Homo sapiens: one gene and its partners. The protein of the gene in region 1 interacts with the protein of each later gene in a pairwise test. Each region holds a gene or a part of one and is shown in the gene's direction. Other genes may lie near its edges. The genes, in order: STX7, FAM174A, TM4SF19, LSMEM2, YKT6, ANKS6 and GJC3.

Region 1 (4,027 bases):
TAAGATAGAGAACGTTTCCACACAGAACTTTTTCTAGCACAGGGATCCCTCATCTTGCTTTTGATGACCATACCCACTTCACTCCCATCCCTACTCCCTTCTTAACCCTTGGCAACCATAATCTGTTCTCCATTTTTATAGTTTTTTTTTTTTTCATTTCAATAAAGCTGTATAACTGGAATCATAATAATATGTAACCTTTTGGGATTGGCTTTTTTTCATTTAGCATGATTTTCTGGAGGTTAATCCAGCTTATTATGTGTATCAAGTCTATTGACAGGTACTTTTTAGTGTGAATAGAATCCCATAGTATAGATGTACCACAGTTTGTTTAACTGTTCACCTGCTGAGAGACATTGGGCCAGTTTTTGGCTACTATAAATAAAGTTGCTATAAACATTTGTGTACAAGTTTTTGTGTGAACATAATCTAGTTTTCTGGGTCAAATGCCCAGCAGTTATATAGTAGTTGGGTCATATAGTAGTTGAATGTTTAGTTTTTAAGAAATTGCCAAACTTATACCAAGTAGCTGTACTATTTTATATACCCACCAGTGGTGTATGAGTGATCTAGTTGCTTCATGTCCTTTTCAGCATTTGGTGGTGTCTCTTTTTTATTTTAGTCATTCTGATAAGTGTATAGTGACAGCTCATTGCAGTTTTGATTTACCATTTTCCCTTCGCTAATGGCAATGATGTTGAGCATCTTTGTTTCATATGCTTATTTGCCACCTGTATCTCTTCTTTAGTGACATGTTTCTTCATGTCTTTTCTAATTGGATTTTTTTTCTGTTGAGTTTTGAGGGCTTTTAAATAATGTGTGTGTGTGCCTCTGTGTGTGTGTGTGTGTATTTTTTTCTAGATACTAGTCCTTTGTTGGATGTGTGATTTGCAAATATTTCCTCCCAGTCAGTAGCATGTCTTTTCATTTCTCTTTTCTGGGCCTTTCACAGAGCAGAAGTGTTTAATTTTGATGAAGTCCACTCTATCCATTTTTCTTTTTATGGATCATGCTTCTGGTATCAAGAACTTTGCCTCTCTCCTTAGATCCCCCAAATTTTCTCTTTTATGTTGTTTTCTAAAAGTATTATAGTTTACGTTTTACTTTTAAGTCTATATTCCATTTTCAGTTAATTTTGTATAAAATGTGAGACTTAGGTCTGGGTTCATTTTTTTTGTTGTTGCCTATGGATATTCAATTACTCCAACATGATATTTGTCGAAAAGGCTCTTTTTTGTCCATTGAATTGTTTTTGCACCTCTGTCAAAAATCAGTTGAGCAAAAATGAGTTAATGAGAAATCAGTTGGGCACATTCGTGTGGGTCTATATCTGGGTTTTCTATTCTTTTCCATTAGACTATGTGTCTATACCTCCACCAACACCAAAATCTTGATTACTGTAGTAAGTCTTGAAATCAAATAGGCTGGTTTATTCCACTTTCTTTTTCAAAATTGTTTTAGCCACTTAGTTCCTTTGTCTTCCCGTATAAACTTTGGAATAATCTTGTCTGTATCTATTCAAATATCTTACTGGGATTTTGACAGGAACTATGTTATACCTATACATCAATTTGGGGAGATTTGACATCTTTACCATGTTAAGCCTTCCCGATCATGATCACAGGATCACTTCACTTCATTTCAGTTAAATTTTGTTTTCCTTCATCAGTATTGTGTGGTTTTCAGCATACAAGGTCTGTACATGTTTTGTTAGATTTATACCTAAGCAATTTAATTTTTGAGAGAGATTGTAAATGGCATTGTATTTTGAATTTCCTGTTCACATGTCTATTCTAAGTACATAGAAATAAAGTGAATTTTTCTATTTTGTATACTGAGACCTTATTGAGCCCACTTACTCATTTTAGGGGATTTTGATTGATTCCTTGGGATTTTTTTTTTATATAGATAGTCATGTCATCTGCAAATAATGAATAGTTTTATCTCTTCATTTCTGACCTATATTCCTTTTTTTTTTCCTTTCAGTCCCTTAATGCAGTGGGTAGAAATTCCAGCAGAAATAAAAGCAGTGAGAGTAGAGATCCTTGGCTTGTTTCTGGTCTTAGGCAGAAAGGATTCAGTGTTTCACCATGAAGTATAATGTTAGCTGTAGGTTTTTAAAGTAGATGCTCTTGCTAAAGTTAAGGAAGTTATCTTTTATTCCTTTTTTTCTGCAAGTTTTTATTATGAATTTTATGTTGAATTTTGTCAAATGCTTTTTCTGCCTTAATTTACATAATGCCATTTTTCTTCTTTAGCCCATTCATGTGGTAGATACATTGATTGATTTTTGAATGTTGAGCCATTGTTACATCCCTGAGATAAACTCCACTTGGTCGTGGTGTATCTTTGTATATATAGCTTAATTCTTTTGGCTAATATTTTGTTAAGGATTTTTGCATCTGTTTTAATGCGACATACTGGTTGGTGGTATCAGGGTAATACTAGCTTCAAAATGAACTGGAAAGTATTCCTTTCTCTTCTGTTTTCTAAAGCGGATTGTATAGAATTGGTGTCAGCGCTTTTTAAAACATTTGATAGAACTTTCCAATGAAATCATCTGGGCCTGGAGATTTTGGGGGAGGGAGTTCTTTTTATTGTAATTTCCACTTTTACAATAGTTATATGGCTGTTTAATTTATCTATTTCATATTGAGTTGTGACAGTTTGTATTTTTAGATGAATTAGTCCATTTCATCTAAGCTCTCAGATTTATATGTAGAGTTTTTGGTTGTATTTTTTGTTAGACTTTTGATGTCTGATATTCCAAAACTCCTTCATTTATCATTTCCTTTCTGTTTAGAGCACTCCTTTAGCCTTATTATTATTATTGTAGTTCCATTGGCAACAAATTCTCTCAGTTTTCTTTCATCTGAAAATGTCTTGATTTTCCCTTGATATCTGAAGAATATTTACATTAGACATAGACTTGTAGGTTTATAGTTCTTTTCTTTCAGCACTTGAAAATTGTTCTGCCACTTCCAGCCAAGAGGGGTGGCTCACGCCTGTAAGCCCAGCACTTTGGGAAGCCAAGGCGGGCAGATCACTTGAGGTCAGGAGTTTGAGACCAGCCTGGCTAACATGGCGAAACCCCGCCTCTACTAAAAATACAAAAATTAGCCGGCATGGTGGTGCACATCTGTAATCCCAGCCATTTGGGAAGCTGAGGCAGGAGAATCACTTGAACCCGTAGGCGGAGATTACAGTGAGCTGAGATCGCACCACTGTACTCCAGTCTGAGCAACAGAACGAGACTCCTTGTCAAAAAAAAAAAAAAGGAAAGAAAATTTCATGGTTCCCCATGAGAAATCCAGTTTTTTAAATTGTTTTGGTCCCTATAGATAGGTGTCATTTGTCTTTTTTCTTTTTCTTTTTTTCCTTTGTGTTTAGTTTTTAGTTGTTTAACCATGATGTATCTTGTAGATTTGGGGGGTTTATTATATTTGAGGTCTTCTCACCATCTATATGTTTATGTCTTTTGCCAATTTTGGGGAGTTTTCAGCTGTCATTTTTTTCAAGAACTTTTTCAGTCTTCCTTCTTTCTTCTTTCTTTTGAGACTCTGATGACACAAATGTTAGATTTATTGTAGTTCCGTAAGTCCCTGAGGTTCTGTTCATCTTTGTTCTGCCTGTTTTCTTCTGTTGTTCAGACTGTGTAATTTCTATCATTTTATCTTCAGATTTATTCATTCTTTCTGCAGTAGCTTCCATTCTGCTATTGAGCCTATCAATTAAGTGTTTCATATTGATTCCTGCATTTTTCAATTTTAAAATTTCTGGCCCTTTACCGAAAATGTTGGTTGACCCCTGGAGTATAAACCTATACTATAGAAGAGAGTATCAATTTTTTTTTTTTTGAGAGGATCAATTTAAACAAAAGTTGGTCTCTTTAAATAAATAAAGTACACATAACTTGGTGAAACCGATTTGGAAAAAAACAGAAGACATAAAAAATTTAGGAATGAAAGTACAGATAAATAACCAAACATAGATTTTAAAATAATAAGACACTATAAACAACTTTATG
Region 2 (4,027 bases), on another chromosome or scaffold:
TTAGTTATTTGTGCCAAGGGAGAAGAATGGGCCAAAATCATTATTTTCTTAACTGATTTGAGGTGATGCAGAAAATATTTTACTTGTAAAATTTTATTACATTGAACTACATGAGACTTTCAAATAGTTTTGTTTTTATCTAATTCATTTATAATGAATATGTAGGTAATAATAACTTCCTTTTTGAGTCTGGAAACATTCCAAAGAACAGTCAGGTTCTCACTGTAGAAATACAAAACATATATATATATATGTAAGTGTATATATATATATGCAAGGAACACGGTAGGGACAAAGTAGATTGCCTAAAATGAACACTTAATCTCTATGAAAAGAGACTTTTCTGTCTTATTCTCCCCTATATCCTCAGTGCTAAACATCATGTGCAATATATGATGGGCACTGAATAAGCAGTTGCCTAATGGATGAGCACTCTTCATGTATTATATTGCTGAACAGGTAGGTGGTAAGGATTTGGAAATTTAAGGATAATTGCTGTTTACTGACGGAACAAAGAACTGCGAAGATCTCAATTAATACTTTTATTTCCTTCCTCTCAGTAGGACATTCTCTCCACAGTAAAATGTATAAGGCCAGGGAGCGGGGGTGGGGGGAAATCACTGTAGATGGTTGTTGGTTTTAGCACGTATGGTAATTATATAAAGCAATTTTTGTCATAGCTGAATAATGATTCTTGCCTTAAAAGCAGGGAATTATTTCCTTTTTCATGCCATGTCGTTGGTTTTTCGTTTTTTATTCAATTTGGTATATTGGAAGGAAATCGATGCTTAAAAGTTTAACCCTCTACTTTTTTTAAAAAAAATCTCTATGCTCTTTAGCAAGTCTCTTCCAATTTCAAGAAAATATGGTGCTCATGCTCATATAGTGGAGATGAGCATGAAATTTATTATGATAGCCTTTATTTAAGCAGTCAATATTTATTCAACTGACCAGTACTGGGCACTGGGGATACAGTTTTGAGCAAAACAAACATTTCTGCTTCTATAACACTTATATACTAGAGGAGCAGAGGGGCATTAACCAAATAATCACATAGATAAGTACATAAAGGATGCTATGAAAAGGCATTAAAATGCAGATCCTATTAATACATATTATATAGGAAATAAAGAATATTAATTTAATTTGAATGCTTACCCAACCCTATACGCTAAGACACAACGTTAGGTTTTTTCAAAGAACCATACTTTGTAACTGAAAGATTATTTTTGAGCTTTTACTTATCATCCTAATAGCTGATAGTTAATTGATAATTTATGTGTCAGATATAATACCGCATACTTTATGTGCATTTTGAAATTCTTGCAAAAACCTTCAAAGTAGGTAATATCATTCTTACTGAGGAAATTTAGGCTGAGCAAGTTTAAATAACTTGCCCAAGCGTGCACATACAGGACCTGCCCAAACCCAGCTCTGCTGGAACTTACCTAACATGTTCAACCATCATGCTGCTTCCTGTGATCATTTAAAGTAACCAATTTAAAGCGATATTGCACATAAAGATGGCTAGCTTATTTATGGAGAAAAATAAAGTGGATAGTATATGCCCAGTGCCTTTCTGTTTAAAACACATGATTTTGTTGGATGTTAAACCTCCAAATTTTACCTTTTTGAAAAGTGAGTTAACATTTATTGATCATCATATTTGTGCCAAGGTGAAATAATTTTGTTTCCTACCTCAACTCCCTGCATTCCTTCCCTCATCCAAAGATTTTCCTGATTTACTACACATAGTCAGGGAATGGTAATATTTTAAAGAAACGTCTGTTAATATGGTCACACATATTTCCACCTTAGTGGAGCAAGTCACTAATGATTTATGCATGTGACTTTAATCACCATTTCTCTTTTGTCTGGTTACTTAAGAATATGAGTTGTTTTCTTTTTCTCCTAGAAGTCTTGTGGTACCAGCCCTATTTACAAAATTATAAAACATCCATAGAAATCACTTAATTTAAGCAAAACCAGGAGTACTTTTGACTATTTAACCATTTATGTATTTAGTGACTGTCACTAATTCAGTAAATATTATTTACCACCTATTGGGTGCCATTACTAAGCTCTGTGATGAGGGTTAGTAGTGCACAAGGAAAGTCCCTGCATTCATGGAACTTCCATTATAATTGTTCATATCTCCTTGGAAAGTGGAGTTTTCCTAACATGTGTAAATTGTCCTGGTTTGCCATTATTTATTTAGCTAGTCAGTGTATATCAAATGTTTTCTATATAAAGAGACCCAGAAACTTGGAAATGTATTTAACAAGTACTAGTTCGCAAGTAATGAATATTTTTTTGCAAAGGTGAAACTTCCCTTCACAAAATGTTTACTCATACACCTAAAATATTTTAAAGTGTCAAGTTAGTTTGCTATGTGGTCAAGTGCCAAAATACCAAGATGATGACATAACTGATATGTCAGGGATCATAATCCCTGATATGATTATCATATCATAAGTGAAGTGATAATAGAATGCTCTGTTTTTAAGTGATATTTGTTATGTGTGCAGTTCTGGGAGGTAAAAGTGGAGATGTACTAGTTTGTTGGGGGCGTTGAGGCCAGAGCAATGCTTGCTCATGTAATGCCACATATAGACATTGATATCTATACGGGGTAAATGTATGAGACTACCTGCCCTGATACTATCCACCTTAGACACTGCCTAGTGATCTCAAGAGCTGAGGAGATCTTTGCTTCACCACATCAATAGCCATTTGCTTGTATGACACCCTGGCTCAGGAGATTTGTAGGACAATGCTGAATGTGGACTATGTAAAGTAGTTTGACAAGTTATCATATGGGCCACCTTTAAGCCCACACAAATCTGTTTCTGATAAATTTGAATGACTGTTATATCTCTCAAACTTCTGAATATTAGGGCTTCAAAGATAATAAAGACATCATATTTGTGTTCAAGGAGCTTATCTAGTGAAGGAGTACCACTGCTTTTTGTGGTAATAAACTAAACTTTTGGGAATGTGGCAGCAAGAGCTGAAGCTATTTGGAGAAGGCTGCTCTTAAATATCATTCCTGTTAGACAAAGCCATCTGAAAAGCCACTTCATAACATAACAAAAACTATTATATTTTTGTAGAAGACTAAATATTTATCTCTAATCAGCATAAATCTTTTACAAACTTGCCCTGTAACTGAATCTATTTTCAGTTGACCTTTTCTGCTTGGATATATTTCATTTCACTCTTAACTGTGCAGGCAGGGAGAAGTATTGGATGAGAGCTGTAGAAAGGGGTCCATTTAAGAATGAACTATCCAGTCTTGTTTAAATGCCATTAGTGGGGAAAGAGCAAGTACAGAAGGAAATATTGAAGATATGGGAAAGGAAGATACCTAAGAAGACATTAAGGAGGGAATCTAAATAAAGCTCTTGTCATAGGACAGGAGAGAGATTTTCCATTGAAATGTTCCCATTTCCATGCCTTTCATTCTCTCTTATGCTTTTTGTAGTCTGGCTTCTAATTCTACCACTCTAGAATTACTCATGCAGAAGATGGTTAATAAGCACATTGTCTCAGTTTCATGGATATTTTCCCCTTTTCTGTAGCACTCAGTGCACTGGTTCTTACTTTGACTTCTGAGACATCTCTTCTGATTTTCTTCTTACCTCCTTGAGTATTTCTTGCCTAGCTTCTTCATGAATTTCTTATTCCATGAACTCTTCTTCCTAATTAGGACTCTTCTACAAGCTAATGTCTGGAGAGCAGGGCCTCTGTCTTACTCATCTTTGGTCCCTAAAGGCCCAATCTGATTCCTAGAATACAACGAGATGCATTGAATTTTTGTGGAAGAGAATGACTTTCACCTCCCAACTGACAGTGTTTTCTGGGCCCTGCTTTCACTGTCCATGTTCCCTGGGTGATCCATCCAAAATTCATTTCCTTAATGGCCACCTCTAAGCTGTTAATTACTTTCTGAGTTACAGACATGTATAGCCAGCCAACTTCTTACGGGATAGATGATTCAGACTTGTTTTCAAGTTTAAGCTTGAAA
Region 3 (4,027 bases), on another chromosome or scaffold:
CAAAGTGCTGGGGTTACAGGCGTGAGCCACCGTGCCTGGCCTCTATACACATATTTTCTGATTAGGTGCAAAGCAGTGTGTTATAGGCGTGTCAAGAGCCTCAAGTGGCCAAGTGCAGTGGCTCACGCCTGTCATCCTAGCACTTTAGGTGTCTGAAGTGGGAGGGCCCTTGAGCCAAGGAGTTTGAGACCAGCCTGGGCCACATAAGGAGACCTCACCTCTATTACATTTTTTTTTCTTCTGAGACGGAGTTTCACTCTTGTTGTCCAGGCTGGAGTGCAGTGGCGTAATCTCGGCTCACTGCAACCTCCACCTCCCGGGTTCAAGTGATTCTCCTGCCTCAGCCTTCCGAGTAGCTGGGATTACAGGCATGCGCCACCACGCCCGGCTAGTTTTGTATTTTTAGTAGAGATGGGGTTTCGTCATGATGGCCAGGCTGGTCTTGAACTCCTGACCTCAGGTGATCTGCCGGCTTTGGCCTCCCAAAGTGCTGGGATTACAGGCGTGAGCCACTGCACCCGGCTAAAAATAAATTTTTTTCAATAAAAAATAAATAAATAAATTAAATAAATAAATAAATAGCGAGCCTTAAGGGGAGACAGACGTGTAACTGAACTGCACAGTGGGAACAGGCCACTTCCTGGGGATGTCATGACGCTGACTTTTTTCAGATCCACATTGACATGAGTCTGCCCAAATATTACTAGTCCTATTTTAATTCATATATATATGTATATATATATATTTTTTTTTTAGATAGAGCTTCACTCTTGTTTCCTGGGCTGGAGTGCAATGGCACGATCTCTGCTCACTGCAACTTCTGCCTCCTGGGCTCAAGCGATTCTGCTGCCTCAGCCACCCGAGTAGCTGGGATTACAGGTGCCTGCCACCACGTCCAGCAATTTTTTTGTATTTTTTAATAGAGACACGGTTTCACCATGTTGACCAGGCTTATCTCAAACTCCTGACATCAGGCGATCCACCTGCCTTGGCCTCCCAAAGTGCTGGGATTACAGGTGTAAGTCACCGTGCCCGGCCTTAATTCATATTTTTCTAAAAAACAAGAAGTTCACATATCAATGAAAATATAAAAGAGAGGAACATAAGGAGTGGAAGAGGCATTTTATAATTTATCTAGATATGACATTTTAATTGTAATTAGCTTTATTGATATATAGTTAAAATTCAATAAAATTCACCTATTTTAAGTGCAAAGTTTAATGAGTTTTGTCAATATGTACAGTTATGTATTCACCACCAGAATCTAGACACAGAATGCTTCCACCCCTTCAGAAAGCTTCCCATGCCCCATACTAATCCTCTTTCCCATTCTCAGCCCATGGCAACCGCTCATCTGCTCTCCGTTAAAAGTTTTGCCTTTTCTAGAATTTCGTATATATAGAAACATGTGAGTAGTCTTTTGTTTCTGGCTTCTTCCACTTAACACAATGCTTTTGAGATTCATCCATGTTATATGTAGCAGAAATTTACGCATTTTATTACCTAATAGAACTCATTTGTATGGATAACACAATTTGTCTTGATTCACCTATTGATTACTGATAAGGATTTGAGTAATCACAAATTTTTTAATTGATTTTTTATTGTGGTAAAGTAACATCAGATTTGTCATTTTAACCATTTTAAAGTGTATAATTCAGTGACATTAATTACATTTGCAATGATGTGCAACCATTACCATTATCTATTTCCAAAACTTTTCTTCACCCCAAACAGAAAGTCTGTAACCCTTAAACCGTGGGCAGTGGCCCAGATCTGGTCATAGCTACTCTGGAGGCACGGGCTGGAGGATCATTTGAGTCCAGGAGTTGAAGACCAGCTGGGGTAACATAGTGAGACTGCATCTCTAAAAAAACCCCAAAACCACCGCGCGCGGTGGGAGGCCGAGGCGGGCAGATCACCTGAGGTCAGGAGTTCAAGACCAGCCTGGCCAACATAGTGAAACCCTGTCTCTACTAAAAATACAAAAATTAGCCAGGCGTGGTGGCACATGCCTGTAGTCCCAGCTACTTGGGAGGCTGAGGCAGGAGAATTGCTTGAGCCCAGGAGGCAGAGGTTGCAGTGAGCTGAGATTGCGCCACTGCACTCCAGCCTGGCTGACAGAGCAAGACTCTGTCTCAAAAAAAAAAAACAAAACAACACAAAACAAAACCTGAAAACCTCTGTAACCATTAAACAATAACTCCCCATTCTCTCCTCCCTCCCCACAGTCCCTGATAACCTCCAGTCTACTTTCTTTCTCTATAAAGTTGTTATTTTGAATATTTCATATAAGTGGAATCATACAATATTTGTCCTTTAGTGTCTGGCTTATTTCTTTTAGCATGATTTTTTTTTTTTAGATGGAGTCGCTTGCTCTTGTCGCCCAGGCTGAAGTGCAGTGGCGCGATCTCAGCTCACTGCAGCCTCTGCCTCCTGGGTTCAAGCGATTTTCCTGCCTCAACCTCCGAGTAGCTGGGATTATAGGCAAGCACCCAGCTGACATTTAAATTTTTAAGCAGTCTGATTAATCATGTTTTGTGGATTGTACTTTTTGCATTTTAGTAAGAAACCTTTATCTAACCCAAGGTCCCAGTGTTTTTCTCCTTTGTTTTATTCTAGAAATTTTATAAAGCTTTTAGACCCATGCTCCATTTCAAGTGAATTTTTGAATATGTTGTGAAGTAATAGTGAAGGCAGTTTTGTTTTGCATGTGCATTGTTCCGGCACCATTTGTGGAAGAGACTTTTTCCCGCTGAATTGTCATCTTCTTAAAAAATCATTTATTGGCCGGGCGCGGTGGCTCATGCCTGTAATCCCAGCACTTTGGGAGCCCGAGACAGGCGGATCACGAGGTCAGGAGATCAAGACCGTCCTGGCTAACACGGTGAAACCCCGTCTCTACTAAAAATACAAAAAATTACCGGGCATGGTGGCGGGCACCTGTAATCCCAGCTACTTGGGAGGCTGAGGCAGGAGAATCGCTTGAACCTGGGAGGCAGAGGTTGCAGTGAGCTGAGATCGCGCCACTGCACTCCAGCCTGAGCAACAGAGCGAGACTCCGTCTCAAGAAAAAAAAAAAATCATTTTTCCTGGACCGGGTCTGTTTCTGAGCTCCAGCCTGTTCCAGTAGTCCATATGTGTTTCCTTACGCGTGGCTTCAGTGTCTTCAATTACTGTAGCTTTGTAAGTCTTGAAATCACATGGCGTAAGTTCTCCAGCTTTGTTTGTTTTTCAGAATTGCTTTGGCTAATCTTCACAATTGCTTTGCATTTCCATATAAATTTAGATTCAGTTTGTCAATTTCTATAACAAAACTCTCCTAGGATTTTGACTGATATTGCTTTAAATCTTTGCATCAATTTAGGGAGAACATGTTAACTATTTTGAGTCTTCTGGTTCAGGAACATGGTATATGTCTCCATTTATTTAGGTCTCCATTAATTTTCTCAGCAATGCTTTGCAATTCTTACTATATAGGTCTTGCAAATATTTTGTTAAATTCATCCATATGTATTATATTTTTATGCTATTGTAAATGATATATTTTAATTTCAATCCTCAATTTGTCATTGCTTGTATATAGAAATACAATATAATTTTTGTATATTAATCTTTTATTCTATGACGTTGCTAAACTCACCTGTTAATTCTAATAAACTTTAGGATTTTCTACATAATGTGATCACATTATCTGTGAATAATAACAATGTTACTTTTTTTTTTTTTTAAGATGGAGTCTTGCTGTGTCACCCAGGCTGGAGTGCAGTGGCATGATCTCAGCTCACTGCAACCTCTGCCTCCCGGGTTCAAGCAATTCTCCTGCCTCAGTCTCCCCAGTAGCTGGGATTACAGGCACCCACCACCGTGCCCAGCTAATTTTTGTATTTTTAGTAGAGACGGGGTTTCACCATGTTGGCCAGGCTGGTCTTGAACTCCTGACCTCGTGATCCGCCTGCCTCAGCCTCCCAAAGTGCTGGGATTACAGGCCTGAGCCACCATGCCTGGCCGACAATATTACTTCTTT
Region 4 (4,566 bases), on another chromosome or scaffold:
TAAGTGCTAGGAAGAAAATAAAACTGGACCGGGCGCAGTGGCTCACGCCTGTAATCCCAGCATTTTGGGAGGCCGAAGCAGTCGGATCATGAAGTCAGGAGTTCAAGACCAGCCTGACCAACATGGTGAAACCCTGTCTCTACTAAAAATACAAAACTTAGGTGGGTGTGATGGCACGCGCCTTTAATCCCAGCTACTCAGGAGGCTGAGGTAAGATAATTGCTTGAACCAGGGAGGCAGAGGTTGCAGTGAGCCGAGATCGCCCCACTGCACTCCAGCCTGGGCAACAGAGCGAGACTCTGTCTCAAAGAAAAGAAAACTGGGTGATGTGGAAAAGAATGTACACAGAAGGCCTCACTGAAGGGGTGGCATTTGAGTTCGCTGACAAGACGGGGCTGGCCACAGGGCTATCTGGGAGCAGAGCATTCCAGGAGGGAACAGCCACCACCAAGCCCCTGAGGTGGTAACAAGCTTGTTGACTTTGAGGAACATCAGGGAGGCCAGTGTGAGACAACGGAGTGACAGGTTTGAGGTGTGTAGGAAGTAGAGCCCACAGTCTTGCTTTGCCCCCACTGGGAAGGAAGGGCACAGGGATCCAACCACAGAGGGAAAGCTGGAAGCTGGACCACCTCCTCCTTTCAAGGTAAGCAGTGATGCGCATCCTTACACAACCTTATGGGACCTGTCTGCCCTTGTGGAGATGGGAGCAGGGGAAGACCAAAACCGTGGATTGTGCTAAATGCTCCAGATGTTGTTCTCAGTGTACACTGCCAGGGAGGAGCCACTGTTATTCCGACTTTACACATGAGCAAACTGAGTTCAGAGAGGGGAGACCCTTTACCTAAGGTTGCAAGCTTAGTAACAAATGAACCAGCCTCCAACCTAGGTCCACCCACTGGCCAGCATGGGTGCTGTTGGTGTATCTGCCCACTTGTGAAGCTATCAGAGCCCTCATGGCATTGGGATTCAGTTGTCCATCACCCTCTATAAGACACACACAACAATAGCATTGTGTGCTAGCAGGTCATGCAGTGGAGGCTGCTGTGTTTGCTGGGAGGAGAGATGACTGGGCTGTGGGTAGGAGTCTGCAGGGGTAGAGGGGTGGCCAAATAGAGATGCACAGGCTTCCTTTGTCTGTCTTGGCTGCCACATGGGGCCTTGCTGAGCCTGGAGTGGCCATTCTGGATGTATGGGGGAGGTGTGCTTCCCCTTGAAGGTCCCTGGGCACCTGGACTAGTGGAGGCAGGCTCCTGGCTGGCTCCCTCACCAGGTAGATAGTTCAGGCTGGCCCACGTGGATCACTCTGCCCCTTCCCATGGCTGAGGGCTGCCCCCTCTAAATATAGCCCAGTGGGCTGAGCTCAGGCCTATTTTAGGCCAAGGCTGGGAGGCAGCCAGGCCTTCCCTGGGCTCACAAAGGAGCCACTGCTGCATTTGTCCAGTCCTGCTACTGGATGCCATCATTGGCCCCCGACTGCCCACTGCTTGCCATGCCTGAGGAGACCCAAGAAGGTAGGAGAGGGTGACCATGAGGGAGGGCAAGGCCTCAGTCCTGTGACCTTGTGGACCATGGAGAGACCCACCCTCTGTCCCACTGACCTCACTGTCTTGAGTAGTTAGTTACCCATTTTCATGCTCCAGCTCCAGTAAAAGGACCTGCCCCCTGTGCAGGGAGGAAAAGCCTGCCATGCCTGGAGCCCCTTGTCACCTCAGGCCCTGCTTCAGTTTCCCCTGCTGGGGACATCAAGGAGGGATGGGAGAAGCTACCCAGTTAGGAGTGGGTCAACTACAGGCTGTGCTCAGGTGGGTGTGGGCATCCGGTCAGCTGCCTGGCCGGTTCAGCTCTTAAGGAAGGAAGCTGGGATTGGGGTGGGTAGTGGTTCCAGAAAGCATTTGGGTACCTGTCCCATGGACTGAAAAGTAGTTAGGCCTCTGGCCTCCCCTGACTTGGGTCTAAATATCCCCAACTGCCTAGGGTTGGGGGTCCCTTGGCCTGGTCAGACAGAGACTCAGCTAGTCAAGAGCTTGGTGGCCACTCACCTAACTGCACCACTGCATATAAGAAGTACTGATGCTCAGAGGGGCCAGGGCAGCAGGAATCTAGGAAGCTACAGGTCCAGTACTGGCCAGGACGTAGGACTGTCTGCTCCATGGCTCCATGTTATGGCCCATGACAGAGCATGGCCCAGCTAGCAAGCTCCTCTTATCACATTTTCAACTTTTTTTTTTTTTTTGAGATGGAATCTCGCTCTGTCACCCAGGCCGGAGTACAGTGGCGTGATCTCGGCTCACTGCAACCTCCGCCTCCCAGATTCAAGCAATTCTCTGCCTCAGCCTCCCAAGTAGCTGGGATTACAGGCGCCTGCCACCATGCCTAGCTAATTTTTGTATTTTTAGTAGAGACGGGGGTTCACCATCTTGGCCAGGCTGGTCTTGAACTCCTGACCTCGTAAGCCACCCACCTCAGCCTCCCAAAGTGTTGGGATTACAGGGGTGAGCCACCGCGCCTGGCCTCAACTTTTTTTTTTTTTGTCACCCAGGCTGGAGTGCAGTGGTGCGGTCTCGGCTCACTGCAACCTCTGCCTCCCAGATTCAAGCTATTCTCCTGTCTCAGGCTCCCAAGTAGCTGGGATTACAGGCATGTGCTACCATGCCCGGCTAATTTTTGTATTTTTAGTAGAGACAAGGTTTCACCGTGTTGGCCAGGCTGGTCTCAAACTCCTGACCTCAGGTGATCCACCCACCTTGGCCTCCCAAATTGTTGGGATTACAGGCGTGAGCCACTGCCAACATTTTCAACATTGCAGGAGAGGGGCCTTGCCCCTGGTAGGGGGAAATGTTTACTTTCATGCATGTGTGTGTGTAGAGAAGGGTCTCCCTGGTCTTGAACTCCTGGCCTCAACCAATCCAATCCTCCCACCTTGGCCTTTCTTTTCTTTTTTTTTTTTTTTTGAGATGGAGTCTCGCTCTGTCGCCCAGGCTGGAGTGCAGTGGCGCGATCTCAGCTCACTGCAAGCTCCGCCTTCCGGGTTCACGCCATTCTCCTGCCTCAGCCTCCTGAGTAGCTGGGACTACAGGAGCCCGCCACTACGCCTGGCTAATTTTTTGTATTTTTAGTAGAGATGGGGTTTCACTGTGTTAGCCGGCATGGTCTCGATCTTCTGACCTCGTGATCCACCCACTTCGGCCTCCCAAAGTGCTGGGATTACAGGTGTGAGCTACCGCGCCCGGCCAGCCACCTTGGCCTTTCAAAGTGCTGGGATTAGAGGCATAAGCCACTGTGCCTACCCTCTTTTGGGATCTTAACAATAACATTTACTGTGTGTTTTTCCTGTAATAAACAATTCACATTCAATTTAGAAAGTGTGAGAAAAGCACAACAAAGTACAAAGAGGGAAATTTTTTTTTTTTTTTGAGACAGAGTCTTGCTCTGTCGCCCAGGCTGGAGTGCAGTGGCACGATCTTGGCTCATTGCAAGCTCTGCCTCCCGGGTTCATGCCATTCTCCTGCCTCAGCCTCCCGAGTAGCTGGGACTACAGGCGCCAGCCACCATGCCCAGCTAATTTTTGTTTTGAATTTTTTAGTAGAGACGGGGTTTCACTGTGTTAGCCAGGATGGTCTCGATCTCCTGACCTCGTGACCTGCCCACCTCGGCCTTCCAAAGTGCTGGGATTACAGGCATGGGCCACTGCGCCCGGCCCTTTTTTTTTTTTTTTTTTCTGAGACGGAGTCTTGCTCTGTCGCCCCGGGTGGAGTGCAGTGGCACGATCTCTGCTCACTGCAACCTCTGCCTCCCAGGTTCAAGTGATTCTCCTGTCTCAGCCTCCCAAGTAGCTGGGACTACAGGCGCCTGCCACCATACCTGGCTAATTTTTAAATATTTTTGGTAGAGACGGGGTTTCACCATATTGGCCAGGCTGGTCTCAAACTCCTGACCTTGTGATCCACTTGCCTTGGCCTCCCAAAGTGCTGGGATTATAGGTGTGAGCCACTGCGCCCGGCAGCAGGGAATTTTTTTTTTTTTTTTTTTTTTTTTGGAGATAGGGTCTCACTCTGTTGCCCAGGCTGGAGTACAATGGCATGATCACAGCTCACTGCAGCCTTGACTTCCTGGACTCAAGCAACCCTCCCACCTCAGCCTCCTGAGAAGCTGGGACCACAGAAGCATGCCACCACACCAAACTAATCTTTAATTACTTTTTTGTTTTTTGAGACGAGGTCTAGCTCTGTCGCCCAGGCTGGAGTGCAGTGGCTTGAGCTTGGATCACTGCAAGCTCCGCCTCCTGGGTTCAAGCTATTCTCCTGCCTTCAGCCTCCTGAGTAGCTGGGACTACAGGCGCCCATCACCATGCCCGGCTAATTTTTTGTATTTTTAGTACAGATGGGGTTTCACCATGTTGACCAGGCTGATCTTGAACTCCTGACCTCGTGATCCGCCCACCTCAGCCTCCCAAAGTGCTGGGATTACAGGTGTGAGCCACCATGCCCGGCCCTAATCTTTGATTTTTTTGTAGAGATGGGGTCTCCCTACGTTGCCCTGGCTGGTTTCAAACTCTTAGACTCAAAT
Region 5 (4,027 bases), on another chromosome or scaffold:
CCCCTTTTTTCTGGAAATCTGTAGTTTAAAATTCAAATACCTTTATTACTCCCCAAGTGAGGTTCATCTCGGGCTGGGCATACTTTTGATTCTCAGAATATTTAGGATATGTTTTAATGATAAAAATTTGGAAAGAACTTTAGCCTAGATTTTCTCTGTTGCCATTATATGTCCCCCTCATTCCTCCTTCCTGGGCTGTGAAGGCCAAGGAGCCTCATTCAGGGTGAGGTGCTCAGGGGTGAAGCCCTGTCATTGAGACCACTGGTGAGTGCACAGTGGGAGGCTTGTTGAGTCTCCTTTGTCTTGCAGGTACTAGATGAATTCTCCAAGCAAGTCGACAGGATAGACTGGCCAGTAGGATCCCCTGCTACAATCCATTACCCAGCCCTGGATGGTCACCTCAGTAGATACCAGGTAGGGTTAAAGGAAGCTTCAGCAGACACCATGTGGCCCAGAATCCATGTGAAACTGAAAAAGCCAACTGCCCTGATAGTTCTGGTCTAATTACTTCTGACAGCTTCTGATGCTGGTGTCCTCTCTCAAGCCTTACTGTTTGGAAAACAGAGAATCTACGTTCAGACCGGGGAACCCAAGCTCTAGGCAGGCTTTGGGTTTCTGTTACATGTTAAACAGGCTGTGGGTTTTTTTTTTTGTTTTTTGTTTTTTGAGTTGGAGTCTCACTCTGTTTCCCAGGCTGGAGTGCAGTGGCGCAATCTCGGCTCACTCAACCTGCACCTCCTGGGTTCAAGCGATTCTCCTGCCTCAGCCTCCCGAGTAGCTGGGATTACAGGCATGTGCCACCACGCCTGGCTAATTTTTGTATTTTTAGTAGAGACGGTTTCACCATGTTGGTCAGGCTGGTCTCGAACTCTTGATCTCTGGTGATCCACCCGCCTCATCCTCCCAAAATGCTGGGATTACAGGCGTGAGCCACTGTGCCCGGCCCAGGCTGTGGTTTTTAACCTGTGAAAGTTTGTCCAGCTTCCTCAGTTTTAGGTTTTGTTTGCAGGTAGCCACTCCAGTCCTGACTTTATTATTTTTCACTCTTTCCTAGAACCCACGAGAAGCTGATCCCATGACTAAAGTGCAGGCCGAACTAGATGAGACCAAAATCATTCTGGTAAGCAGGAAGATGGAGAGCAAGCCCAAGAACTGAGGCGGGGGTGCGATTTCCACTGGCCAGGCATGCACAGATCCATCCTCGTTTTAATATAATAGTAACCACGGCACTCTCCAGCAAGTGGGATTGCCCACCCCTTCCCCCACCCCGGGCATCAGACTGTCTTTCCTATACCCTTCTCTTGGTTAATGGCACCCATTGTTTCTAGGGGACCAAGCTGGGAACCAGTGGAACCCTCAAGTCTCCCTTCCTCATGGCTACTGCCTGTCTGACCATTTACTGGGTTCCTAGGGTTTGGCTTCTGAAGACCTGGATTCCCACCCTGGTGCCTTTGTTAGGGTTTCGGGTGCCTCCACACCCCACAGGTGCCTCCCCTTGCAGCGTTTGCATTGAAGGTGAACAGATTGAAGCACCGTGCACTGACCACAGGGCAGCTTCTGGAATATGGGCCCAGGGTTGTCACATAGGCCCCTTTGAAAAGAGCCAGAACCCTGCATTTTGAGCTGAAATCTCCTGATTTGTAACTGTTGCTTCAACTCTTTTTTTTTAAATTTTTGCATACAAGTGGAATGTAAGCAGCTATCTGTTTTTCTCAGGTTTTTCTCTTACAGCCTTTGCCTCTAAGTGGTCCCCTTGCCTCCTGCTCACCTCCAGTCTGTCCACCAGAGAGTAGTCATTGATCTGCACAACTTAGAACCCTTCAGCAGCTCTCAGATCCGCCCCAGGATAAAGTGCAAACTAACTCACAGTCTCCTGACTGGGCCCTGTTCTCTCTTATACCCTTTCTTGCCCAGCTCACACACAGGCGCCTGAAGGTTGGGCCTTTCTGACCAGATGTCACAGTTTTGTCACTGCTTGTTTACATGTCTCCCTGACCAGCGTATGAGCACTGGGACATCTTTCCATCCTGCTCATGATACAGTGCCTAGTTTATACCATGCTCAGCAGTTGATAGATACCTGGAGTGGATTGAAACCCACATACAAAGCTTTACCATTTACACAGGCATAGCTTTAGTGTGTACATCAGCGTCTCCTGGGGTTGGAGTTGTTGGCCTGCGATGGAGCCTGGGAACCTGCATTTTATAAAAAGCATCCCAGGGGCTTCAAACACAGGTGTGCTGACTGCACTCCAAATAACGTGGCTTTGGAATGAACGATAGATGTGAAAGTCTCATGGTATCTGTGTCTTTTGAAACCTTGTGAGCTTTCTTACCACCTAGGTGGCATTTCTCCGTTTTCTCCTCAAGCCATCTCTTTCTGTTGCTCAAGTCCTAGTCTGAGTACCATGACACCTGGGACACCCGCTGTTTCTCCTCTCCCCACGGTGGGGAGTGGATGAGTCCTATTCACCCAGCCTCATCTAGCTGCAGTTGTAAAATCTAGATGATTGGTGTGCATATCTGAATCAGTTAACTTTCTGTGTTAAAAATTTGAGTCGCTCAGCTGTGTGTAGGGATGAAGGACATTCTTGCTGGCTCCTTGTTCTATGGCGCTTCATGTGTGCATCTAGCTGCTGCAGCAGTGGCCATCTGAGGAGAGAAGCGAGCTGCTGCTTCCTGAGGGCCCTGGCAGCAGAGCTGCTGGCTCTTGTGAGGTCTCCATCTCTAGACCCCTTCCCATGGGGTCAGTGTTTTCATTTCCTAAGTCAGAGTTTGTAGTGATGACATTTAGGACATAGCCCATTTAGAAGGCAGGACATGTTCTGTCATAGTGCTGTCTGGTATATATTTGGGGCATGTGTGTAACTTAGAATTTTCTAGGAGCCATATTTTAAAATGATAAAAGGAAAATAGGTAGAATTTAATTTAATTATATATTTTACTTAACGCAGTATATCCAAATACAATTTTTCCAACATGTAATCGGTATAAAACTTGTTTTTTTTTCAGTATAAAACTTACTAATGAAGCATGTGTGAGTTTGCATCTGAAATCTGGTGTGTCTGTACTCAGAGCGCTGCTCAGTTTGGACTTGCCTCACATCAAGTGCTCAATAGCCATTTCCCACCGCCTTTTGTTTCCTGTGGCTGCTGTCAACAGAAACCCTCAAATATTTGCTTTTAACAGATAGCTCTGTGGGCCTGGCTGGTGTCTTTTGGGGCTCTGAGTGTCTGTCCCAGGCCTCTCTCCAGCCTCTGGTGGCTGCTGGCCATCCTTGGCATTCCTTGGATTAGAGGTGCATCACTTCAGGCTCTGCCTCTGCCGTCACGTGACCTTCTGTGTGTGTGTTTCCGTTTCTTACCAGGACATCAGTCATGGAATTAGATGCCACCCTAATCCAGTATTACCTCTTCCTAACTAGTTACATCTGCCAAGACCCTATTTCTAAATATGGTCACATTCAGAGATTCTGGGGATGTTAATTTCTGGGATGCGGTTGGGGTTGGGGGGTGCGGTGTGGGTCACTCTCCAACCCAGTACAATCATATAGTGCCCAGCTACTCTTTTTTCCAAAGCTCCATGCACACGCACATGTGCGTGCACACACACACACACACACAAATGTATATATAAATGTGTGTGTATATATATATATGAGTTTTCCTGGAGTGCTGGTTATCTAAGCCTGTGCTGGGGACAGCTTTTTGGGAAGTCTGCTACATCCCAGTTAGATCTTCTAGATTTCACGGGAATGTCACCAGGTTCTGTTCCATCCACTTGGACAGTAACTATTCTTGGACCGAGTCTCGACACCTAGAGGTGAAGTTTGTGTGTGTTGGAGAGGAACCCAGGTAAGGCACTTTCCCCCATGACTGAAATATGAGGGGCTCATGTCAGGGCACGTACTGAACAGAGCTGGATTCTCTTTTCTTTTTTGTCCAGCACAACACCATGGAGTCTCTGTTAGAGCGAGGTGAGAAGCTAGATGACTTGGTGTCCAAATCCGAGGTGCTGGGAACACAGTC
Region 6 (3,550 bases), on another chromosome or scaffold:
TCCATCCATGAGCATGGGATGTGTTTCCACTTGTTTGTGTCATCTATGATTTATTTCAGCAGTGTTTTCTAGTTTTCCTTGTAGAGGTCTTTCACCTCCTTGGTTAGGTATATTCCTAAGTATTTTTTTTTTTTATTTTTTTGCAGCTATTATAGAAGTGGTTGAGTTCTTGATTCGATTCTCAGCTTGGTCACTGTTGTTGTATAGAAGAGCTACTGATTTGTGTACGTTAATCTTGTATCCAGAAACTTTGCTGAATTCTTTTATCAGTTCTAGGAGCTTTCTGGAGCTGTCTTTAGGGTTTTCTAGGTAAACGATCATGTCATCAGCAAACAGCGACAGTTTGACTTCCTGTCTGATTGCTCTGGCTAGGACGCAGTCTCTGTTCTTAACCTCTGAGTATTGCTGCCTCCGAGCCTGGAATGCAGTGATGATGTTTTCTGGGCTTAACAGAACATTCACATCCACCCTCTTTTCTCATCTGAAAATGTGTGTATAGGGGGCAGGGGGCGTTGTAGGAATAGAGTGAGAAGTGAATCTCTGTGAAGACAAATCCGGCAGCTTTTGGGCAAAGGGAAGCAAAGGCAGTTTAAACTCTTATCCTGTAGCAGAAGGACACTTGGCTCCCATTGAATTATCTGGAAATCTAAGGACTGGAAAGATGCACAGAGGCGCAGGAAAGGAGACCTCGAATCCGGGCCGTGCGACTCGGGAGAAGTCAGTCCTGCCCCGGACTCGGCCTCCCACTCTGTCCAGGGGTTTGGGGTCCTGCATCCCAGGGCCTCTCCAGCATTGACAGGCTGCGATGGTGGGTACTGGGGAGATTCTGACTCAGTATGTTTTTATTGAACTCGGTACTCTTTCAGTTAGGTAATTTATTTTCCCCAAGACGCCCATGGGTTTTTGAAGTATGAGTTGAACATTAACAACACTGTGTCAATTGAATTAATGGTTAAAAGGTTTAATAAGACTTTCTGTGTCTGTTTTCAATTTCCTCCACAGGGACGCGAGAGACAAATTTTACAGGAAACCATTCACAACTTTCACTCTTCCTTTGAGAGCAGTGCCAGCAACACCAGGGCCCCTGGCAACAGCCCCTGTGCGTGATCCTCCTTCCCGCAGCCACCAGCGTGAGCTCTCTGAATCCCGGGACCCCTTCACGTGGCCACAGCCCCAGCCCTGCCCCCGTCACACTGCTGTGCCTTAGTCATGTTGTTCCCTTTGCTCGGGATGCCCACTTCACGTCGACGGCATTCATTGGTAGTACTTCTTGCTGCAACAAACTTCAACACACAGAGACAGATTCCCATGTAACAGTCCAGTGGGGGTGCTTCTGCTTGGCAGGTTGGTTCACACAGTGATGCAGGGACTCAGCTCCTTTCATCCTGTGCTCTGCCCTCCCCGGGAGCCTCAGAGTTTGCTTCTGGCTGGCGGCAAGGGAAAGGGACGATGGAGAAGGCACGGCTGCTTCTTACCTGCCTTGCTCTTAACTGACACACATCACTCCTGCTCACGTCCTCTTGGCCACTGGTAGTCATGTGGCCCCACCTGGATGCAGAGGAGGCCAGGATGTGCAGTCTCCACATAGTGGCTTCCCAGCAACAACTTTTGACTTAGATGGGGGGTATGTATTATGGTGAGAGGTTAGCCTTCCTGGCACATCTTCCCTTAAAACTTCTAACTTGCCCCTCCTAGTCCAAGTCACCTCTCAGATGAAGTCTTTTTTGACCCCCTTTCAGCCACTGGGTCCCTTAGTGCTGTGTATGTGACTGCTGTAGCATTCCACTGCACCTGCTGCATACAGCTTACATTGGAGATGTGTATGTCAAACGCATTTTTCTTTATTGCAAAGAGAGTCTATTATAGAAGGAAAGAAGTGGAGGCCTGCTGTGTGGATCCCTTCTTCTTCCTAGCTTTCAGTTTCCTTATCTGCAAAGTGGAAGGTCAGACCAGATGATGCTCTGGTACTCCACAGTGCTCACCTGTATCACTGCAGGGCTTTCTGCACTGAAAGTGGAAGCAGAAGGCTAATGGGTCACATTGTGTAAAGGTCTCTGGTGCTCAAAGTTTCTAGGCAAAGAAGTGAAAATTTGGAATTTTGTCTACATCCTATTAATGCTGTGTTCCTCAAAAGGGAATTGGCTTGTGTAGTTTCCTACCATATCATATTTTATTAAATTAGAGGGGCCCTGACTTTTAAAACCCACTGGCTTTCTGAAGTGTTTTCCAGTGAATGACTCATTCAGCCAGTGCTTGTTGCATTTATGTTAGCTACCAGGTGCCAAGTGTGCAGACACAATACAGAGCCTTCAGGCTCTCGACAGGCAAGAGAACACCTGTAAATAGATGGTCCCGACATTGAGAGGCAGCATGGTAGAGTGGGCAGACCTTGTGCTCTGGACTCAGGTTCAAAGTTCAGATGAAGCTCAATGGCCTCTTAGTTGGAGCTTAGAACCAGTATGCCCAAAGTGCTGGGTCTGCAGGAAGTACCCAGTCGATGGTAGGCTGCACAGAATTCTGATCTCTACCTTGAGCCATGCTGAGCCACAAGTTGGTCTCCTTGGGAGGTGCCATCTCTCATCTGTCCCTCCCCCAGCCATGAAAGCCCATTCCCCTATGCTGGCTTTCAGAGGCTGTCGTTAACTTACTGCCCAGAGCCTCGTAGTTTTCTTCCCCTGCCCTGATGGTTGGGTGTTTTTCCTTTAAATTCTCTCAGCCTTACACTCACAGAAGCCAACTTTCCACAGGACTGAAGACAAAGTGTTTCATTTAGCTGTTACTGATAGACACCTTTACAAAGGTTACTAATGTCCCAGCCTTTTTAAGGAGACACACTCATTCATCCCCTACTATGTGCTGGCAGCTTTACCTTTGTCATTTCATCCTCATGGCCACCCTGGAGGTGGCATTGTGTAACCTCATCTTGCACATTCGGGAAACGGATGCTTAGGAGAGGGAAGCAGCTTGCCAGTTAAACAGCCCAGAAGGAGCAGATCTGGGGTCAGAACCGGACCTGGTGGGCTTGCAAGCCTGTGCCTTTTCCACTAACTCCTATAGACTCCTGGAGCTAGAAGCACTTGTGATTCTTGTTTTAATTTACTGATGGCTTCAGGGGTTAACAGTAGGCCTAGAATTGTTTGCCTCTGAAATTCATGGCCCCTGACGTTATGTGCTTTGAGGTTTTGTGCCTGCTTTTTGCTGTGGTCCTGTTTTTTTCATAACAATATACTGGTATAGCTTCCACTCAGGTAAGTTTGATTGAACAATGATACACAGCTGCACCGGGGGGTCACCTTTTCACAAATGTAGACCTCCATGAACTCATTGGATGACCCTGGACAGAGCGGGGCTATTCCCATTTTGCAGACAGGACAGCAGAGGCTCCAGACAATGCCTTTCCTTTCTTTTTCACTGGACTCAAGTGTCCAAGGCTTTTCATCCTAGGAAGTTTGTGTGCTGGTTCACAAGAGGTCCCTGGCACCCTTTCTGGGGATGTTTGGATGCGGCTGGTAGGCAGGGAAGAGAAAGGGCACCCCAGCGGGGGCATGTG
Region 7 (4,780 bases), on another chromosome or scaffold:
ATTAGCCCGGCGTGGTGGTGCGCCCCTATAGTCCCAGCTACTCAGCAGGCTGAGGCAGGGGAATTGCTTGAACCTGGGAGGCAGAGATTGCAGCGAGCCAAGATCGTGCCAGTGCACTCCAGCCTGGTGACAGAGCGAGAGTCCGTCTCAAAAAAAAAAAAAAAAAAAAAGAAATAGAACAACTGGAACAATTGTAACAATATGCTGGCATCACTACTCTTGCTTTTTGGGGCTATTCTTAAGTAAAATAAGAGTTACTTGAACGAGTATTGATAGTTGATCTGATAACCAAAATGGCGATTAAGTCACAAACCAGCAAGGAGCGTCTACAGCGTTGGATACCCTGGACAAAGGGATGATTCACATCCTGGGTGGGATGGTGTGAGATTTCATAGTGCTACTCAGAACAGCACACAATTTAAAACATTAATTTTGTATTTCTGGAATTTTCCATTTAATATTTTTGGACCTCTGTTGACTGTGGGTAACTGAAACTGTAGAAAGTGAAATCGCAGATAAGAGGGGGGACTACTGTATTAGGTTCTAGCATATGCATCTTGATCATCATTCAGACCATACCACATGGTCTTCTGAGTGTGAGGGTAACCAGATGAGTGAGAATTTAGGCTAAATGGGGACGGTTTGAAACAGCTGCTGGGCATTGGGGAAGGCAGCTGATTAGGACAAATATAGAGATGGTGAACTTGGGCTTGTAGCATTGTGGTATTTTGGCTGGGGAACAGAGGGATTTCTGAAACTTATCCTTGATCATGGTCGCCTGTCACCATGAGGGAGATAATATGCCCAAGGAACAATGGCAAGTGGGGGTCAAAAATCTGAATTTCTATCTAGTCAGTTCTGGCTCTGGCCCCAAATCCTATAGTATGTAATTCTGGTAAATTCTGCTGGGTTACCTTCCAAATGTTCTCTTCTTCCTCAGCTTGTAAGGCCTAAGAGCATCAGACTAAAGCAAGCCTCGATGCTTGCTCTGTTCATTTCATCCATCACATCTAGCCCCATAACCTAACTACCTCTCAACTTTACCACTGTGATGGGAGAAGAGGACATCCAGACACACCTGTGATCATCCAAGGGCATGGAGGAAGAGAAAAGAAGACCGCAAGAGAATGCACATTCCCTCTCAGCATCAGCACTAATTTGCTTAAGATGATGCTGTAGGAGCACCAGGCCTGGCAGCCATCAGCTGGGGAAGCAATACCTTTCAAAGGAAAATTAACAAAACATCCCAGTCTACTCTCTTACGTTCAGCCTTTGGGAAAGAGAGACGGAGGGAAGGAGGGAAAGAGAGAGATGAAGATGTATCCTGGTCTCTCCAACCTGAGAGTTCCTCTCCACTCCAGCAGTACAGAAGGGGAGGGCAGAAGAGAGAGCCACACCACACACACTCACTGTTATTATTTTACATAGATGATTTCATTAAGTAGTAAAGAGGTGCAATCAGAGTCTTGGTATTTAATCAGTCAGATACTTGGAGAGGAATAAAAAAGCTTGCCTTCAGTGATCCTTGGATTAGGAGTGACAAGGTGGACTGGAGCTCCCTCTGAAGGACAGTGAACAACACTGATCTCTTGTCCTCTGCTCCAAAACAGGATGTGTGGCAGGTTCCTGCGGCGGCTGCTGGCGGAGGAGAGCCGGCGCTCCACCCCCGTGGGGCGCCTCTTGCTTCCCGTGCTCCTGGGATTCCGCCTTGTGCTGCTGGCTGCCAGTGGGCCTGGAGTCTATGGTGATGAGCAGAGTGAATTCGTGTGTCACACCCAGCAGCCGGGCTGCAAGGCTGCCTGCTTCGATGCCTTCCACCCCCTCTCCCCGCTGCGTTTCTGGGTCTTCCAGGTCATCTTGGTGGCTGTACCCAGCGCCCTCTATATGGGTTTCACTCTGTATCACGTGATCTGGCACTGGGAATTATCAGGAAAGGGGAAGGAGGAGGAGACCCTGATCCAGGGACGGGAGGGCAACACAGATGTCCCAGGGGCTGGAAGCCTCAGGCTGCTCTGGGCTTATGTGGCTCAGCTGGGGGCTCGGCTTGTCCTGGAGGGGGCAGCCCTGGGGTTGCAGTACCACCTGTATGGGTTCCAGATGCCCAGCTCCTTTGCATGTCGCCGAGAACCTTGCCTTGGTAGTATAACCTGCAATCTGTCCCGCCCCTCTGAGAAGACCATTTTCCTAAAGACCATGTTTGGAGTCAGCGGTTTCTGTCTCTTGTTTACTTTTTTGGAGCTTGTGCTTCTGGGTTTGGGGAGATGGTGGAGGACCTGGAAGCACAAATCTTCCTCTTCTAAATACTTCCTAACTTCAGAGAGCACCAGAAGACACAAGAAAGCAACCGATAGCCTCCCAGTGGTGGAAACCAAAGAGCAATTTCAAGAAGCAGGTGAGAAGGACACGCTCTCTTCCTGTCACTGATGTTTGTGTCCTGATGATCTCCTCCCGGGGCAGGTCCCTCACCTTTCTGGGAAGTACAACTTCTGCATGTTACAAAGTAGGTAACCAGGTTCTAGGCAGATGTGTTCTGACCGCCACTCCCAACCCTTTTCTTTGTTCTCTCTTGCTCTCAAAATCTATCCCAATGTCCATCCCCATCAACTTGATGGTTCCTTCCAGCGAACAAGGACAAGAGTGCTAGTCCGTTGTCCCTCCTGAACTTCCATTTAGGTCTCTCTCCACTTAGGAAAAATCTCAGCTTCTTCTTGATTCTCTACTTTGCAGAGTTATAAAGACACCTGACTTGCCTGAAGGAAACTCTGTGATTGAATCTTCTTTCCAACATCCAGTGAGTGGGGATTCATGTCTGTGACAAATTAGAGGCTGTTGAAGGATCTCTAAGGGCCCCTTGGGCCATGTAGTCTAAAGCATTTCCTGACTGTGCCTTTTCACTGGAATTTTCTGGTGTCAGCATCACAATTTTTATGGGCTTGGTTCAAGAGTCAGCCGGGAGAAGCCTCCCTAAACTGTGTCTCTCCCCTGTCCTGCTCAATAAATATTGATGACTGCTGTTGGCATTCCTGTTGCTGAAGATAATGCCCCTTCCTGTCTCACTGGCTTCATTTACCTCTTTTCTGTTTTTCCACATTCTCTGCTCCCCTTATCATCAAAGTTTTGTAAATGAATGCCCCTCAGACCTGCAGCACATGTCATAAGCCAGAAACTCTGGGCTTCAAGCATATATAAGTCAGTGTCCTCTAATATCTATAGATTTATCCAAATACCCGGCCATATCCTTAAGGAAAATTACTGTGAATTCAGGGGCTTAGGCCCCCTTGATCACTGATAGCTCTGATTTCTGCTCAATTCTCATTCTTCATTTCTGCAGTTCTCGTTGCAGCTTGTTACAATTGTCTCCAGAACTGCAGCAACTCATGCTGGACCAAGTTCCTACTCTTTAATTTCATAACCCTCAATACCACACAGAAAAAGCAGTAGAGTTCTACTGCTGATATGCTGATTTGGGAGTAACAGCAAGGGAGGCTGACATCACAGTGTGATTCGGCGGGTAACTGCAATCTGAATATCAGTCTTCTCGAGTCTCTTAGTCATTTCTGTTGGACAGTGTTGTTCTATCCCTTTTTTTTTTTAACAGAACGCTGCCCTCTTTTCTTAGTTTTCTCTTGCCCTGAAATTCTCAACAAAGGCAGTTATCTATTTTTTTTTCTCTTTCTGAATCCCAAATTATCCCCAAGTAAGTTAGGGGATCCCAAGGGATGCTTTGGCAATAGCTAGGAAATTTTTTTTTTCTTCCTGCTACACAAGTGCTTCATAAGAATCCCTCATCCACTGTAGCCAGAGCCCAGCCAAAGTGACCAAGGAAAAACGCAAATAGCATCATTTGGAATTCTTCCTTATACCACCCCCTTTTAAAACAGCTTTATTGAGATATAATTCATACACCATATAATTTATCCACTTAAAGTGAGGCAGGAGAATAGGTTCTGGAGGAAGGGAACCTAAGGCTGTTTCACGCCAACTTCCTAGGACTAAATTGAAAGGAAAACTCTAACTTTCCTTGCCTAAGTAACACAAGGACCAGAGGCTACTCCCTTTGCAACACCCCCACCTTTTCTGTGCAGCAGATGGGAAATTGCCTGTCCCCAACAAATCAGGCTGTTTGCAGATGAGTCTTCCTTTGCAACTTCGTAACTTCTTCCTAGCCTCTGATTGGTTGCTTTCTGCAAAGCATGAACTGGCCAAAGGGAAACTTCTAGTGGGTACTGGGACCCAAGAAGATTGTGTATCCGTGCCCTTGAACCGCTGCTCGGATTGCTCCCACACTGTGGCGTGTACTTTGGTTTTCAATAAATCCCTGCTTTCGTTCTTTTGTTGCTTCATCCTTTCTTTGCTTTGCTAGGAGTTTTGTCCAATTCCTTGTTCAAAACGCCAAGAACCTGGACAACTTGCAGTCACTATCCTCTACCAGTGACAAAAGTATACAATTAAATAGCCTTTAGTATATTCAGAGTTGTATATCCATCAACACTACCAATTTAATAACATTTTCATCAACTTAAAAAAACCCTACCCCCTCATGTTACTCTCAAACTCTTATTAGCACCCAAAACATGCAACCATCATATGGTTTTGTCTCTATTGGTTTTCCTACTCTTTCATACAAATGGAATCATGCAATATGTGGTCTTTCATGTCTGGCTTCTTTCACTGAGCATAACTTGAGGTTCATTCATGTTGTGGCATGTTTCAGTATTACATTCCTTTATATGGTTGAGTGTTATTCCACTGTTAGGATATACCACATTTTGTTTAAGGA

Evidence for each region.
Region 2: the proteins of STX7 (region 1) and FAM174A interact in binary tests that used the Homo sapiens proteins (3 or more experiments, as listed by UniProt).
Region 3: the proteins of STX7 (region 1) and TM4SF19 interact in binary tests that used the Homo sapiens proteins (3 or more experiments, as listed by UniProt).
Region 4: the proteins of STX7 (region 1) and LSMEM2 interact in binary tests that used the Homo sapiens proteins (3 or more experiments, as listed by UniProt).
Region 5: the proteins of STX7 (region 1) and YKT6 interact in binary tests that used the Homo sapiens proteins (3 or more experiments, as listed by UniProt).
Region 6: the proteins of STX7 (region 1) and ANKS6 interact in binary tests that used the Homo sapiens proteins (3 or more experiments, as listed by UniProt).
Region 7: the proteins of STX7 (region 1) and GJC3 interact in binary tests that used the Homo sapiens proteins (3 or more experiments, as listed by UniProt).

The regions. Positions count from the first base shown.
Region 1 is NC_000006.12:132,450,352-132,454,378, reverse strand, and holds part of STX7 (syntaxin-7), read left to right. Parts: 3' UTR 1-4,027. UniProt on the Homo sapiens protein: May be involved in protein trafficking from the plasma membrane to the early endosome (EE) as well as in homotypic fusion of endocytic organelles. Mediates the endocytic trafficking from early endosomes to late endosomes and lysosomes.
Region 2 is NC_000005.10:100,538,270-100,542,296, forward strand, and holds part of FAM174A (membrane protein FAM174A precursor), read left to right. Parts: intron 1-4,027.
Region 3 is NC_000003.12:196,328,003-196,332,029, reverse strand, and holds part of TM4SF19 (transmembrane 4 L6 family member 19), read left to right. Parts: intron 1-4,027. UniProt on the Homo sapiens protein: Negatively regulates vacuolar (H+)-ATPase (V-ATPase) activity by interacting with members of V-ATPase V0 complex and hence inhibiting V1-V0 complex assembly. Required for multinucleation during osteoclast differentiation.
Region 4 is NC_000003.12:50,277,661-50,282,226, forward strand, and holds the start of LSMEM2 (leucine-rich single-pass membrane protein 2), read left to right. Parts: upstream 1-1,426; 5' UTR 1,427-1,453; coding exon 1,454-1,511; intron 1,512-4,566.
Region 5 is NC_000007.14:44,207,079-44,211,105, forward strand, and holds part of YKT6 (synaptobrevin homolog YKT6), read left to right. Parts: intron 1-309; coding exon 310-414; intron 415-1,054; coding exon 1,055-1,120; intron 1,121-3,944; coding exon 3,945-4,027. UniProt on the Homo sapiens protein: Vesicular soluble NSF attachment protein receptor (v-SNARE) mediating vesicle docking and fusion to a specific acceptor cellular compartment. Functions in endoplasmic reticulum to Golgi transport; as part of a SNARE complex composed of GOSR1, GOSR2 and STX5.
Region 6 is NC_000009.12:98,734,076-98,737,625, reverse strand, and holds part of ANKS6 (ankyrin repeat and SAM domain-containing protein 6), read left to right. Parts: intron 1-1,002; coding exon 1,003-1,107; 3' UTR 1,108-3,550.
Region 7 is NC_000007.14:99,926,452-99,931,231, reverse strand, and holds the start of GJC3 (gap junction gamma-3 protein precursor), read left to right. Parts: upstream 1-1,611; coding exon 1,612-2,392; intron 2,393-4,780.